Linked DNA regions of Homo sapiens: region 1 is linked to region 2. Evidence: fine-mapped expression QTL. A gene starts in region 2. The other region holds a variant in brackets. All regions are shown on one strand. Distances are from middle to middle. Region 1 has its middle 3.6 kb from the start of TFPI. Region 2 holds the start of CALCRL-AS1 (CALCRL and TFPI antisense RNA 1).

Evidence for each region. PIP is the estimated chance that this variant, and not a neighbour inherited with it, causes the effect.
Region 1: its variant is the best candidate, but not a certain one, in a credible set for the expression of CALCRL-AS1 in lung (GTEx, PIP 0.85).

The regions. Positions count from the first base shown.
Region 1 is chr2:187,556,650-187,559,428 of GRCh38, reverse strand. No RefSeq gene overlaps it. Among named protein-coding and RNA genes, the nearest start is that of TFPI, 3.6 kb to the right of the region's middle. RefSeq lists enhancers at 785-1,367, 1,368-1,952. The variant A/G (reference allele first, on the strand shown) is at 1,666.
Region 2 is chr2:187,001,599-187,004,377 of GRCh38, reverse strand. CALCRL-AS1 (CALCRL and TFPI antisense RNA 1) reads right to left here and starts at 1,105. Exons shown (of 6, transcript NR_187179.1): 1 at 1,013-1,105. It also overlaps the pseudogene IMPDH1P7.

The DNA.
Region 1 (2,779 bases), 560 kb before region 2:
CCCATCAGTCCCCATTACAACCTCTGACAGCTGCCGCCCTAGCTGGATTCCTAGGAGTCTGGGTACAAGACACCCCTTTCAGCACTCCTTCTCATCTTTTTACTTTACATCTCCAGTTTTGCCTCACACAAGGTCTCTTCTTCCTCTGTGGATCCTCTACCTACATGTGTCTACCTGCTAATTGGACAGGCACATGTACACTAGTCTTCCTTACCCCCAAAATTCAATTTGCAAATGGGACCGAAGAGCTCCCTGTTCCCCTCATGACACCGACACGACAAAAAAGAGTTATTCCACTAATTCCCTTGATGGTCGGTTTAGGACTTTCTGCCTCCACTATTGCTCTCGGTACTGGAATAGCAGGCATTTCAACCTCTGTCACGACCTTCCGTAGCCTGTCTCATGACTTCTCTGCTAGCATCACACACATATCACAAACTTTATCAGTCCTCCAGGCCCAAGTTGACTCTTTAGCTGCAGTTGTCCTCCAGAACCGCCAAGGCCTTGACTTACTCACTGCTGAAAAAGGAGGACTGCATATTCATAAATGAGGAGTGTTGTTTTTACCTAAATCAATCTGGCCTGGTGTATGACAACATAAAAAAACTCAAGGATAGAGCCCCAAAACTTGCCAACCAAGCAAGTAATTACGCTGAACCCCCTTGGGCACTCTCTAATTGGATGTCCTGGGTCCTCCCAATTCTTAGTCCTTTAATACCCATTTTTCTCCTTCTTTTATTCAGACCTTGTATCTTCCATTTAGTTTCTCAATTCATCCAAAACCGTATCCAGGCCATCACCAATCATTCTATACGACAAATGTTTCTTCTAACATCCCCACAATATCACCCCTTACCACAAGACCTCCCTTCAGCTTAATCTCTCCCACTCTAGGTTCCCACGCCGCCCCTAATCCCGCTTGAAGCAGCCCTGATAAACATCACCCATTCTCTCGCCATATCACCCCCCAAAAATTTTCACTGCCCCAACACTTCAACACTATTTTGTTTTATTTTTCTTATTAATATAAGAAGGCAGGAGTGTCAGGCCTCTGAGCCCAAGCCAAGCCATGCATCCCCTGTGACCTGCACGTATATGCCCAGATGGCCTGAAGTAACTGAAGAATCACAAAAGAAGTGAATATGCCCTGCACCACCTTAATGATGACATTCCACCACAAAAGAAGTGTAAATGGCCGGTCCTTGCCTTAACTGATGACATTACCTTGTGAAACTCCTTTTCCTGGCTCATCCTGGCTCAAAGCACCCCCACTGAGCACCTTGCGGCCCCCACTCCTGCCCGCCAGAGAACAAACCCCCTTTGACTGTAATTTTCCTTTACCTACCCAAATCCTATAAAACAGCCCCACCCTTATCTCCCTTGGCTGACTCTCTTTTCGGACTCAGCCCGCCTGCACCCAGGTGAAATAAACAGCCATGCTGCTCACACAAAGCCTGTTTGGTGGTCTCTTCACACGGATGCGCATGAAACTTTATTTATTTTATTTTATTTTATTTTATTTTATTTTTTTATTGATCATTCTTGGGTGTTTCTCGCAGAGGGGGATTTGGCAGGGTCATAGGACAATAGTGGAGGGAAGGTCAGCAGATAAACAAGTGAACAAAGGTCTCTGGTTTTCCTAGGCAGAGGACCCTGCGGCCTTCC[A/G]CAGTGTTTGTGTCCCTGGTTACTTGAGATTAGGGAGTGGTGATGACTCTCAACGAGCATGCTGCCTTCAAGCATCTGTTTAACAAAGCACATCTTGCACCGCCCTTAATCCATTTAGCCCTGAGTGGACACAGCACATGTTTCAGAGAGCACGGGGTTGGGGGTAAGGTCACAGATCAACAGGATAAGAATTTTTCTTAGTACAGAACAAAATGAAAAGTCTCCCATGTCTACCTCTTTCTACACAGACACGGCAACCATCCGATTTCTCAATCTTTTCCCCACCTTTCCCCGCTTTCTATTCCACAAAACCGCCATTGTCATCATGGCCCGTTCTCAATGAGCTGTTGGGTACACCTCCCAGACGGGGTGGTGGCCGGGCAGAGGGGCTCCTCACTTCCCAGTAGGGGCGGCCGGGCAGAGGCGCCCCTCACCTCCCGGACGGGGCGGCTGGCCGGGCAGGGGGCTGACCCCCCCACCTCACTCCCGGATGGGGCGGCTGGCCGGGCAGAGGGGCTCCTCACTTCCCAGTAGGGGCGGCCGGGCAGAGGCACCCCTCACCTCCCGGACGGGGTGGCTGGCCCGGCGGGGGGCTGATCCCCCCACCTCCCTCCCAGACGGGGCGGCTTGCCAGGCAGGGGGCTGACCCCCCCACCTCCCTCCCGGACCGGGCGGCTGGCCGGGCAGAGGGGCTCCTCACTTCCCAGTAGGGGCGGCCGGGCAGAGGCACCCCTCACCTCCCGGACGGGGCGGCTGGCCGGGCGGGGGGCTGACCCCCCCACCTCCCTCCCGGACTGGGCGGCTGGCCGGGCGGGGGGCTGATCCCCCCACCTCCCTCCCGGACGGGGTGGCTGCTGGGCGGAGACGCTCCTCACTTCCCAGACGGGGCGGCTGGCCGGGCAGAGGGGCTCCTCACTTCCCAGTAGGGGCCGCCGGGCAGAGGCGCCCCTCACCTCCCGGACGGGGCGGCTGGCCGGGCGGGGGGCTGACCCCCCACCTCCCTCCCAGACGGGGTGGCTGCTGGGCAGAGACGCTCCTCACTTCCCAGACAGGGTGGCTGCTGGGCAGAGGGGCTCCTCACTTCTCAGATGGGGCGGCTGCCGGGCGGAGGGTC
Region 2 (2,779 bases):
AATAGTTTATAAATTGCAATCTGATTTCTGCTTTAAGCTATAAAATATTCGGAAAAGCACATTTTGGCATTCTTTACTAATTTTATTGCAATGTTTTCAGAGAACATGTTTTGTGTGTTACCAACTCTTAGAGACTTTCTTTGTGGCCAAGTACATGAACAATTTAAAAATATATCCTATGGATGGACTTCAGGTGCCAGCCAAGATGAAGTAAGCCTGCTAGAATCTTTCTCTTTCACTCATTACAATTAAAAATTCAGGACAAAATACTAAAACACTTACCTGAGGATGATTCCGAAACAAAATAATAGCAAGGAGGTTGAGGAGCGACATCAAAACTCAAAAAATGACCAGTATGCCAATAGTGAGTTTCCTAGGATATTTTCCTTCAAGATCATCTGGTCTTGGCTTAAGGATGGGCCAAATCAGGGAACAATGTGATGGGAACAGACAGCAAAAACTTTGAGAAAACCCTGGTTTTCTGTCAGAGTACTAAGAAACTGGGACCCTGAGAGGTGGAAAGTGGAGGTTGAAGGTGAAATCCCAATGTGTTTTTCTCTCCCTCTGCCCCAAGGCCAGCTTCATTGACCAGCTTCAGTGCATGTAGAGGCAGCAGCATGAATGTAAGCCCTAGAAATCCATCTTTCTGGACAGAGGAACCAGGAAAATGGGCCTCTAGGGGCCTCTGTGTGTAAAGACTGTGGAAGGAATTCCCATTTTTATTTTCAGTCTTTTCTTTCATTACTTCATCCCCCGGGTATATCCAATAACACAGAACTGTGCAACTGTGTGGAAAACTTAGAAGACTCCTGGCCAGAGGGACTGGGAAAAGAGGACCCTGAGAGACAGACTCTGAGAGAGAAAATTATTTAAAAAGAAAAAAAAAAAGAGAGAGAGAGAGAGAAGCGGCCCCGCCCGGCTCGCAGCGGCAGCATGGCCGCAGCGCGGGGGCAGCAGCAGCAGGCGGCTGCGCGCGGATGTCGCAGGGTTTCGCGGCAGCATGACGGACTACCTGATCAGGGGCGGCACCGACTATGTGCCCGATAACTGGCTCCCCGCGCAGCAGCTCTTTGCCAGCGCCGACTGCCTCACCTACGACGACTTCCTGATTCTCCCAGGATTCACAGACTTCATAGCTGATGAGGCGGACCTGACCTCAGCCCTGACCCGGAAGATCACGCTGAAGACTCCGCTCATTTCCTCCCCCACGGACACTGTGACAGGCCGACATAGCCATTGCAATGGCTCTGATGGGAGGTATTGGTTTCATTCACCACAACTGCACCCCAGAGTTCCAGGCCAAGGAGGTGCGGAAGGTCAAGAAGTTTGAACAGGGCTTCATCACGGACCCGGTGGTGCTGACCCCCTCGCACACTGTGGGTGATGTGTTGGAGGCCAAGATGCGGCATGGCTTCTCTGGCATCCCCATCACTGAGACGGGCACCATAGGCAGCAAGCTGGTGGGCATCGTCACCTCCAGAGACATCAACTTTCTTGCTGAGGAGGACCACACCACCCTCCTCAGTGTTGGCTCCAGCAGGCCTGATGTTGAAAGAGGCAAATGAGATCCTGCAGCATAGCAAGAAAGGGAAGCTGTCTTTCGTCAATGATCCGATGAGCTGGTGGCCATGATCACCTGCACCGACCTGAAGAAGAACAGAGACTACCCTCTGGCCTCCAAGGATTCCCACAAGCAGCTACTGCGTGGGGCAGCTGTGGGCACCCCTGAGGATGACAAATACCGCCTGGACTTGCTCACCCAGGCGGGGGTAGACGTCGTAGTCTTGGACTTGTCCCAAGGGAACTCGGTGTATCAGATTGCCACGGTGCATTACATCAAACAGAAGTACCCCCACCTCCAGGTGATTGGGATGACAGCCGCCCAGGCCAAAAACCTGATTGACGCTGCGGTGGACGGGCTGCGCATAGGTATGGGCTGCGGCTCCATCTGCATCACCCAGGAAGTGATGGCCTGCGGTGGGCCCCAGGGCACTGCATTGTACAAGGTGGCCGAGTATGCCCTGTGCTTTGGTGTGTCCATCATAGCCGATGGCGGCATCTAGACCGTGGGGCACGTGGTTAAGGCCCTGGCCCTTGGAGCCTCCACAGTGATGATGGGCTCCCTGCTGGCCACCACCACGTAGGACCCCGGCGAGTATTTCTTCTCAGATGGGGTGCGGCTCAAGAAGTACCAGGGCATGGGCTCACTGGATGCCATGGAGAAGAGCAGCAGCAGCCAGAAATGATACGTCAGCAAGGGGAATAAGGTGAAGATCGCGCAGGGTGTCTTGGGCTCCATCCAGGACAAAGGATCCATTCATAAGTTCGTGTCCTACCTCATAGCGGGCATCCAGCCTGGCTGCCAGGATATTGGGCCGCAGCCTGTCTGTCCTTCAGTCCATGATGTACTCAGGAGAACTGAATTTTGAGAAGCAAACCATGTCGGCCCAGATCAAGGGTGGCGTCCATGGCCTGCACTCTTAGGAGAAGCGGCTGTACTGAGGACAGCAGTGGAGGCCAAGGTGGTGGAAGGGGCATACCGCAGTGTCCACTTTCAGGCACAGCCTCCCTCCATAACTGAGTGGTCCACAGACTTGCACTATAGGTTCCCCAGCTCCTTTCCAGGGAGAAAGGAGGGGAAGTTCTGAGGGGTCTGCAGCCTCTTGCTGGGCATCGCCTGCAGAATCAGAACTGCTCCCTGGGCCAGAGTGCCCTGGGAACCCCCCAACACACACACACCAGCCCAGCCAGCCAGGCTCTCAGGCCCTGCGCATGCCTC